3 linked regions of the Homo sapiens genome follow. The protein of the gene in region 3 interacts with the protein of the main gene of each other region in a pairwise test. Each region holds a gene or a part of one and is shown on either strand. Other genes may lie near its edges. The genes, in order: WDCP, MKRN1 and CSNK1G1.

Region 1 (3,653 bases), on a different chromosome or scaffold from region 3:
CAGGTATTGGAGAGCAGCCTGGGCAACATGGCAAGACCCCATCTCATAAAAAGAAAATAAAACTATACATCACTGTGGTAGGATGAACCACTCAAAGAATATGTCCACTAATATTTTTAAATGAAGTCACAGGAATAAACTGTAAAAGTCAAAACCAACTAATCATTTATTTCACGTCTTATGAAATGTAATTTCTGAAATTACAGGGGAAACTATTTCTTGCTTTTGATTATTGTGTAACTTTTACTTTTCTCATTACAAAAGGAATAAATGATCAATTTTTTAAAAGTATAATAGGGCCGGGTGTGGTGGCTCACGCCTGTAATCCCAGAACTTTGGAAGGCCAAGGCGGGTGGATCACTTGAGGTCAGGAGTTCGAGACCAGCCTGGCCAACATGGTGAAACCCCATCTCTACTATAAATACAAAAATTAGCTGGGTGTGGTGGTGCACACCTGTAATCCCAACTACCTGGGTGGCTGAGGCAGAGAATCGCTTGAACCCAGGAGGCGGAGGTTGCAGTGAGCCAAGATCGCGCCACTGCACTCCGGCCTGGGTGACAAAGCAAAGCTCTATCTAAAAATAAATAAATAAAATAAAAATATAACAGAAATATATAATGCAGACAGTAAAGCCCCCAAAATTCTATCCTCCAGAGATAACTACTGACAACAGCTTGGTTGGATGACATAATTATAAACTAAAAAACTGAGGAATTGAAAGGGCAACAAAACTTTTTTTTTTTTTTTTTGAGACAGAGTCTTGCTCTGTTTCCCAGGCTGGCGTGCAGTGGCACGATCACAGCTCACTGCAGCCTCAACCTCCTCAGCTTAGGTGATCCTCACACCTCAGCCTCCCAAGTAGCTGGGAAAACAGGTGGGTGCCATCACGGCTGGCTAATTTTTGTATTTTTCGGTAGAGACAGGGTTTTGCCATGCTGCCCAGGCTGGTCTCGAACTCCTGGACTCAAGTGATCTACCCATCTCGGCCTCCCAAAGTTCTGGGGTTACAGGTTTAAGCCACTGTGCCTGGCCAAACATGGTTGTTTTAACCTTAGTTTTTAAAAATATAAAATTTTACATTTATAAGTGTTTTAAAAACAGAAAGATATATTATTGTTTGCAAGTAAAATAGCCTATTTAAAGAAAATTTTAAAAATAATATATTTTTATATTAGATTTTTTTTGGATTAGATAAATGTACAGAAAAAATATGGAAATATTTACATCTAACATCTAATAAAATATTTAGCTATATCTGTGATTTTCTCTAAAGGTTGGATTATGGAAAATTTTTACTTTCTGTAATGGTAAAATTTTTTTCCTCAACAAGTATATATTACTTTTGTAATTAGGAAAAAAAAATACTATGCAGCTGTGGAAAAAAAGATGAAAAAAGAGCTCTGTGTGCTGATATAAAGAGCTCTCTAGGACATACTATTAAATGGAAAATGAAAAGGTGTGTATATCACCTTCCCTTTTGTGTAACAAAAGGGGAAATAAAAATACATAACTAAAGTCTGCTAGTATCTGCATAAAGAAATAAAAATAAAAATGGTTACCTAAAGGAGGAAAGGAGAACAGGCTGAAGAAACATAGGGTAGGAATAAGAGTTCTTGGTATACAGTTTTTATTAAAATACAGTTTTGCTTTTTAAACCAAATAAATGAATTACCTATTAAAAAAAGACAGAAGAAAAAGAAAACAAACTCTTTAAAAAGTCATAGTAGGAAAGAAATCCAAACCAGTTATCACATTTATAAATAAAATAATTTTAAAAAAATCAAAACTATGGCTGGGTGCAGTGGCTCACACCTGTAATCCCAGCGCTTTGGGAGGCTGAAGCAGGAGGACTGCTTGAGCCCAGGACTTCCAAACAAGCCTGGGCAACATAGCAAGACCTTGTCTCTATAGTTAAAAAAAAATTTTTTTTAATTAAAAAAAAATTAGGCCGGGCGCAGTGGCTTACACGTGTAATCTCAGCACTCTGGGAGGCCAAGGCGGGCAGATCACAAGGTCAGGAGATTGAGCTCATCCTGGCCAACACGGTGAAACCCCGCCTCTACTAAGAATACAAAAATTAGCCAGGTGTGGTGGCACGTGCCTGTAATCCCAGCTACTTGGGAGGCTGAGGCAGGAGAATTGCTAGAACCTGGGAGTTGGAGGTTGCAGCGAGCTGAGATCGCGCCACTGCACTCCAGCCTGGTGACAGAGACTCCGTCTCAAAAATAAATAAATAAATAAATAAATAAATAAATAAATAAATAAAATAAAATGCTCCTCACAGCAAAGCTGTGACTTAAAAAAAAAAATTAAAACTCTACTACTGAAAACTCCATGTAGTTAATGTGGCAAAAATCCTCTTTAAAAAAATGTAGGGTTGGGGCCACATGCAGTGGCACACACCTGTAATCCCAGCACTTTGGGAGGCTGAGGCAAGACTATCACTTGAGCCCAGGAGGTCATGATCAGCCTAGGCAACATAGCAAGATCCTGTCTCTGCTAAAAAAAAAAAAAATTAGCCAAGTGTGGTGGCATGTGCTTGTAGTCTCAGCTGCTCAGGAGGCTGAAGCAGGAGGGTCACTGATCAGATTGGTGACATACGAGGAAAAGGACAGCCTTATACATAGCTGGCGGGCGTGTGATGATGCACTGTTAAGTAAAAATCTTTGAGAGGCAATCTGGTAACTCAATTAAAAGTAGAAACACATATACTCTTCAAATTTGCATTTCTACTTCTGGGAACCAATCCAACAGAAATAAAGGTACTAATATGAATGGATACATATAAGAGTACTACTGCAGCATCATTTGGAGTAGCTAAAAACTAAAAACAAAGTGAATGTCAATCAACAAGGGAATGGCTAAATAAAGAGCATACTCTCAGTATGAAGTAAAGAGTGCACCATATCACCCTATTTTTGTAAAAACAATGACAAACCATTCCCACATACCTATATATCTATGTACACAAAGACCTGTGTTAGATCATGTGACCATGGAGAAAGTCACGAAAGGATCCATGTTAAGCTGCTGGTTACAGCGGATTAAGGGGAAGATGGGGCAAGGCCATATTTTATATAGGAGGAAAGTGTCCATGATAAAAACATGTATAATATGATCCCACTTATATAATGTTTGGACATGCATGCATAAAGAAATGCATCAAAACATTTTAAATGAACATAACCTTTTCCTTTTTCTTTGAGACGGAGTCTCGCCCTGTTGCCCAGGCTGGAGTGCAGTGGCACAGTCTCGGCTCACTGAAACCTGTGCCTCCCGGGCTCAAGTGATACTCCTGCTTTCCCAAGTAGCTGGGATTACAGGCGCCCATCACCATGCCCAGCTAATTTTTATATTTTTGTTAGAGACAGGGTTTCACCACATTGGCCAGGCTGGTCTCGAACTCCTGACCTCAGGTGATCCACTTGCCTCGGCCTCCCAAAGTGCTAGGATTACAGGCGTGAGCCATGGAGCCCAGCAACATAACCTTTTTTATAACTGGAGGAGTATCTCTATTATATAAGGAAAAGGTTGTCACAATGAAATAACATGATTTTTTTTCTAAATATAAATTGCCCGAATTAGTGCAGACATTTATTTTTCCACGTCATGCACCTGATAAAATCATGATGCAGACTGATATGTGCGCCTA
Region 2 (3,653 bases), on a different chromosome or scaffold from region 3:
ACAAAACTCTTTGATATGCCTTCCTTCAAAAGGTAGAGCCCAATCCTCTCCCTTTACATGTGGGCTGGACTTAGTAACTTAGTCCAGAATCAGTGGAAATAACAGTATATGACTTCTGACACTAGGTCATAAAAGGCATTGTGGCTTTTCCTTGCCTCCTCTGTTAAATTGTTTGCTCTGGGGAAAGCTAGCTGCCAAGCTGCAAGGATACTAAAGTATCCCTATGAAAAGGCCCATGTGGGCCAGGCGGGGTGGCTCACGCCTGTAATCCCAGCGCTTTGGGAGGCAAAGGCAGGTGGACTGCCTGAGCTCAGGAATTTGAGACCAGCCTGGCCAACATAGTGAAACCCCGTCTCTACTAAAAATACAAAAGTTAGTGGGGTGTGGGCCGGGCGCGGTGGCTCATGCCTACAATCCCAGCACTTTGGGAGGCTGGTGTGGGCTGGTCAGGAGATCAAGACCATCCTTTCAACAAGGTGAAACCCCATCTCTACTAAAAATACAAAAATTAGCTGAGTGTGGCGGTGCATGCCTGTAATCCCAGCTACTCGGGAGGCTGAGGCAGGAGAATCACTTGAACCTGGGAGGTGGAGGTTGCAGTGAGCTGAGGCTGTGCCACTGAACTCCAGCCTGGCGACAGAGCTAGGCTCTGTCTCAAAAAAAAAAAAAAAAAAAAAAAAATTAGCCAGGTGTGGTGGTGCATGCTTGTAATCCTAGCTACTCTGGAGGCCAAGGCAGGAGAATCTCTCGAACGCGGGAGGCAGAGGTTGCAGTGAGCTGAGATCATGCCATTGCACTCCAGCCTGGGTGACCAGCAAAACTCCGTCTTGAAAAAAAAAAAAGGCCAAGTGGTGAGAAACCAAAGTCTCCTGCCAACAGTCATGAGAGTAAGACCTCTTAAAAACAATACTGGGCTAGGCACCATGGCTCACGGCTGTAATCTCAGCACTTTGGGAAGCCGAACCGCGTGGATCACCTGAGGTCAGGAGTTCGAGACCAGCCTGGCCAACATGGTGAAACTCCGTCTCTACTAAAAATACAAAAATTAGCTAGGTGTGGTGGCGGGCGCCTGTAATCCCAGCTACTCCGGAAGATGAGGCAGGAGAATCGCTTGAACCCAGGAGGCGGAGGTTGCAGTGAGCCGAAATTGCGCCACTGCACTCCAGCCTGGGCGACAAGAGCAAGACTCCATCCTAAACAAAACAAACAAAAAAACCCAAACAAACAAACAAAAAACAATGCTGGCTGGGCACTGTGTCTCACACCTGTAATCCCAGCACTCTGGGAGGCCGAGGTGGGCAGATCACTTGAGGTCAGGAGTTCGAGACTAGCCTGGCCAACATGATGAAACCCTGTCTCTGCCAAAAATATAAAAAATTAGCCGGGCATAGTGGCACGCAGATGTAATCCCATCTACTTGGGAAACTGAGGCAGGAGAATTGCTTGAATCTGGGAGGCAGAGGTTGCAGTGAGCCGAGATCTTGCCACTGCACTCCAGCCTGGGCAACAGAGGGACAAGACTCGGTCTCACACACACAAAAAATATCCTGGAGTCCCCATCAAGTCTTCAGATGACTTGCTAAAATTTTGACTGCCATCTCATAAGTGTCTCTGAGATAGAACCATCCAGCTAAGGCACTCACAGAATCCGGAACCCCAGAAACTGAGATAATAAATGTTCACTGTTTTAACCTACTAAATTTGGGGATGGGCCAGTTTCTGGGGCTCATGCTTGTAATCCCAACACTTTTCGGAGGCCAAGGCAGGAAGATTGCTTGAGCCCAGGAATCTGAGACCAGCCTACGCAACATATTAAGACCCCCATCTCTACAAAAAACTAAATAAATGAGGTGGTGCATCCCTGTGGTCCCAGCTACTTGGGAGGCTGAGGTGAGAGGATCATTTCAGCCTGGTAAGTTGAGGCTGCAGTGAGAAGTGACCACACCACTGCACTCCAGCCTGGGCAACACAGTAAGACCCTGTCTCAAAAAAATAAATAAAAAATAAATTTGAGGGTTACTTGTTTAACATCCACAGATAATACACCTAGTCATTTCTGAACTAGGAGGATAGAAAAGCCCTACCCAATTTTTTTTTAAGGTGGAGTCTCGCTCTGTTGCCCAGGCTGGAGCGCAGTGGCGGGCTCTTGGCTCAGTGCAACATCCACCTCCCGGGTTCATGCAATTCTCCTGCTTCAGCCTCCGAAGTAGCTGGGATTACAGACGCACACCACCATGCCCAGCTAATTTTTCTATATTTTGTAGACATGAGGTCTCACTAGGTTACCCAGGCTGGTCTCAAACTTCCAAGATCAAGCAATCCTCCTACCTAAGCATCCCAAAGTGCTGGGATTATAGGCATGAGCCACTGCCCAGCCAAGAGTCATTTTCAAAGCATTATTTTTAATCAGTGACATATAAAGCTATCAGAAGTATGTCTTTTACCTTTTTCCTCCAACCCACCCCTGAACAAATTTATAAACAAATTCTTACCTGCAGCGGTCTCCATAAATACAGTACCCTCGCTGAAAATACTTGCACACTACACTATACGGACTGTCAGAGAGGTCATGCGAGTAGCGACAGTTGTCTCCTTCCTTACAAACCCCATGCATAAAATACCTGTGAGACGAAAGACCACAAAACTGGATTAAAACCAATCCTTGAAAATATTAAAACTAATTAGTATTCATGACTAATATATTCAACCAGTAAATACACAAACATACGAAATAAACACAAAGAAAGGGCCAGGCATGGTGGCTCATGCCTGTAATCCCAGTACCTTTGGGAGGCTGAGGTGAGTGGCTCACCTGAGGTCAGGGGTCTAAGACCAGCGGTTCGAGACCAGCCTGGGCAACATGGTGAAACCCCGTCTCTACTAAAAATACAAAAATTGGCTGGTGTGGTGGCACACATGTTAATCCCAGCTACTCAGGAGGCTGAGGCAGGAGAACTGCTTACACGTGGGAGGCTGAGGTTTCAATGAGCCGAGATCGCGCCATTGCACTCCAGCCTGGGAGACAGAGCAAGACTCCATTTCAAAAAAAAAAAATAAAAAGAAGGTGATAAGAAAACAGGAGTAAAGCAAGTGTATTAGTCCGTTTTTGCATTGTGTTTTTGCTTTGTAGCTGGGACTACAGGCGCCGCCACCACGCCCGGCTAATTTCTTGTATTTTTAGTAGAGACAGGGTTTCACCATGTTAGCCAGGATGGTCTCGATCTCCTGACCTTGTGATCTGCCCACCTCGGCCTCCCAAAGTGCTGAGATTACAAGCGTGAGCCACTGCGCCTGGCCCTTGTTTTTGCATTGTTACAACGAACTATTTTGACATTCCAGCCTGGGTGATGGAGCACGACTATGACTCTGTCTCAAAAAAATGTAATAATAATACGCCTTAGATTATGAAAACTGTTTAACTTACATAACAAAAAGAAAAAAAAAGGGCCAGGCGTGGTGGCCCACACCTGTAATCCCAGCACTTTGGGAGGCCAAGGCGGATGGATCACGAGGTCAGGAGATCAAGACCATCCTGGCTAATATGGTGAAACCCCATCTCTACTAAAAGTACAAAAAATTAGCCGGGCATGGTGGCAGGCACCTGTAATCCCAACTACTCGGGAGGCTGAGGCAGGGATTGCAGTGAGCCGAGA
Region 3 (3,653 bases):
TATCCAGATGGCTCTCTCTTTAGGCCATTTCTGGGATACCACACTAGTGCTATTTCAATTTCTCTGAGATGACTGAGTCTTTCTGGTCCGCTAAGTTAAGGTTATAACCTCAGCAAGTTTGGTCTTTTACAGTTTAGTAACCCAAAAGCCTGCCGTCAGAATTTATTAAGATCCAAAATGAACCTAGCATGGTGGTTAGCACCTGTAATCCCAGCTACTCAGGAGGTTGAGGTGGAAGGATCACTTGAGCTCAGGAGTTCAAGACCAGCCTGAGCAACACACTGAGACCCTCGTCTCCAAAAATTAAAAAAAAAAAAAAAATTAAAAATTAAAAAAATCCCAAATGAAAAGTGCCAACTATGTGCACACATTTAGATGAAAACTAAGCAACTGGCACAGAGGGTAAGATAAAATCCACTACTGAAAGAGTAAATTTAAGTAAGCTTGTTTTAAGTTAAAAATCCTCAGAAGAAGCTTCTTTTCTGGTTTTAAGACATCAAGTGAATAAAGATTTAATCTAAAATATCTTTTTATCAATTTTTTAAGCTTCCATCAACAAGTGGACTATGTTAAATACTACTTATAAAAATGGTTTTATCGGCTGGTCGCGGTGGCTCACACCTGTAATCCCAGCACTTTGGGAGGCCAAGGCGGGCGGATCACAAGGTCAGGAGATCGAGACCATCCTGGCTAACACGGTGAAACCCCGTCTCTACTAAAAATACAAAAAGAAAAAAAATTAGCCGGGTGTGGTGGCAGGCACCTGTAGTCCCAGCTACTCCGGAGGCTGAGGCAGGAGAATGGCGTGAACCCGGGAGATGGAGCTTGCAGTGAGCCAAGATCACGCCACTGCACTCCAGCCTGAGCAACAGAGCAAGACTCTGTCTCCAAAAAAAAAAAATTGGTTTATCAAGTGAACAGTGAGAATTAAAAGATGCATGAAGTTACCATTCATATAGTTTGAAATAACAATTAACTTTAAACAGTATCTGTCATCATCCTGTATAACTCAATATAAAAATGCAAGATCTTTGGTTACATGTTCACTGATAGAGCTGATATTATATAACCTAAATCTACTGAGGATTTTTATTTTTACAAAATAATCTGATGAACTCAAAGCCATAAAACATAAAAGGGGTTGGGAGAGAAGGAATCTGAAACAGATGGCATCTAAATTTTTTTTCCTGAGTCCATCTTGAACACAATCCCAATAATGTCAAAATCCAATTTTGCTCTCCAAATAAGTAATCTCCACAACTTAAAATGGTAATTCTGAAGTAAATCCATTCTTTTTCTTTTTTTTTTTCCTCCCAGCTTCTCAGAGCTTCTATATTGGGCAGAAATGAGTAGAGACAAGTTAACTGTTAAAAAGAGAAAAACTATCATTCCACAAATTCAAAAGTTATTTCCGGAAAATACACTTATCTAAAACCACTGAAGCAGTTTCTATCAATATGTAGTACTAAAATCTATGACACCAGCCTTTTTTTATATAATGATTATTTATCCTTATTAGAGACTAAATCACAGCTCCATAAAAGAAATATGCTTTAAAATAAAAATGAGCTCTGGAAGAATACTCATTTGGTTTGAGTAAAAAGAAAGCACCGCCTGGACTTTTTAATAACATTTTCACAGTAACTCACTCCTGATTGTATAGCGCCAATAAATTCAGCTGTATTTTGTTCATTATCTAATTCTAGTATATGGTACATATATAAACCTTCCCAATCTTTCCTAAAACTTTCTGAGGTCATCCAAGAGATAGATATTAAACAAAGGTTTAGTCATTTTTAGATTTCCTGACAAGCAAATTCCATAACTGACAACTGCAAAGATCCTTGGAACGGCCACAGACTTTGAGAGGAAGTGGTGATTGAGAAATCTCTAACCGTCTCTATTCATTGCACACAATTAAGATAGAATTTTTTACTCTAGCAGCTAGTATACTATCTCTTATATCAAAATTAATAGATTATCGGGCCAGGCACGGTGGCTCACGCCTGTAGTCCCAGCACTTTGAGAGGCTGAGGCGGGCCAATCACTTGAGGCCAGGAGTTCAAGACCAGCGTGGCCAACATGGCAAAACCCCATGTCCACTAAAAATACAAAAATTAGCCAGGTATGCTGGCGCACACCTGTAATCCCAGCTAATCGGGAGACTGAGGCAGGAGGGGCGCTTGAACCTGAGGGGCAGAGGCTGCAGTAAGCTGAGCCTGGGCACTCCAGCCTGGGTAACAGAAACTCCGTCTCAAAAACAAAAAAGATTTTTAAAAATATTAATACAGTATTATAGTTTGAGAAGAAGACAGGGGAAAAAGTGGGAGCTTCTGAGAGCTTTACCAAAGCATATGATCTCAACTTTAAGATTTAAAGGATGATAAAAAAATGATACGAGAAAACACAGCAGGCCGGGCAGGGCAGTTCACACCTGTAATCCCAGCACCTTGGGAGGCCAAGGTGGGTGGATCACCTGAGGTCACGAGTTAGAGAGCCGCCTGGCCAACATGGCCAACACCGTTTCTACTAAAAATACAAAAATTAGCCAGCATGGTGGCGCATGCCTATAGTTCCAGCTTATTCAGGAGGCTGAGGCAGTAGAATTGCTTGAACCCGGGAGGCGGAGGTTGCAGTGAGCCAAGATAGTGCCGCTGCACTCCAGCATGGGTGACAGAGCAAGACTCCATCTCAAAAAAAAAGTGAAAAGATAAAAGAAAACACAGCAGAAAGCTTAGATATATACAGACCTTACACTCTCAGAAGAGCCATTTAGAAAGCTAAATAACCTTACCAAAACTCTGTAACTATCACAAAACATAATTTGAATTCTTCTTTTTTTTTTTTTTTTTTTGAGATGGAGTTTTGCTCTTGCCCAGGCTGGAGTGAATGGCACAATCTTGGCTCACCGCAACCTCCACCTCCCGGGTTCAAGCGATTCTCTTGCCTCAGCCTCCCGAGTAGCTGGGATTACAGGCATGCTCCATCATGCCTGACTAATGTTGTATTTTTAGTAGAGATGGGGTTTCTCCATGTTGCTCAGGCTGGTCTCAAACTCCTGACCTCAGGTGATCCGCCCACCTCGGCCTCCCAAGGTGCTAGGATTACAGGCATGAGCCACCATGCCTGGCCTAATTTCAACTCTTTATAAAACAAAGAGACATGGGGAAGAAATATATTTGAAAATTTCTCAGGGCTGGGTGTGTTGGCTCATGCCTGTAATCCCAGCACTTTGGGAGGCCAAAGCTGGCGGATCACTTGAGGTCAGGAGTTCGAGACCTGCCTGGCCAACATGGCAAAACGCCTTCTCTACTAAAAACACAAAAATTAGCTGGACATGGTGGCACACGCCTGTAGTTCCAGCTACTCAGGAAGCTGAGGTGCGAGAACTGCTTGAACTTAGCAGGCGGAGATTGCAATGAGCAGAGATTATGCTGCTGCACTCCAGCCTAGGTGACAGAGCAAGAATCTGTCTTTAAAAAAAAAGAAAAGAAAATTTCTCACAAATTTACACAAAACTTATGAACTTCTCAAAAAAGGTCAAACTGAATTGCAAACTTTGTATTCTCACAAACATCTATTATTACAGGAAGTTATTTGATTTTTGTCCTCTGAGTATAAATTACATTTGAAAATAACTAACTATAAGTCAC

Evidence for each region.
Region 1: the proteins of CSNK1G1 (region 3) and WDCP interact in a two-hybrid assay, tested with the Homo sapiens proteins (one large-scale study listed by BioGRID and IntAct).
Region 2: the proteins of CSNK1G1 (region 3) and MKRN1 interact in a two-hybrid assay, tested with the Homo sapiens proteins (one large-scale study listed by BioGRID and IntAct).

Annotation. Positions count from the first base shown.
Region 1 is NC_000002.12:24,033,842-24,037,494, forward strand, and holds part of WDCP (WD repeat and coiled-coil-containing protein), read right to left. Parts: intron 1-3,653.
Region 2 is NC_000007.14:140,469,391-140,473,043, forward strand, and holds part of MKRN1 (E3 ubiquitin-protein ligase makorin-1), read right to left. Parts: intron 2,622-3,653; coding exon 2,493-2,621; intron 1-2,492. UniProt on the Homo sapiens protein: E3 ubiquitin ligase catalyzing the covalent attachment of ubiquitin moieties onto substrate proteins. These substrates include FILIP1, p53/TP53, CDKN1A and TERT.
Region 3 is NC_000015.10:64,349,613-64,353,265, forward strand, and holds part of CSNK1G1 (casein kinase I isoform gamma-1), read right to left. Parts: intron 1-3,653.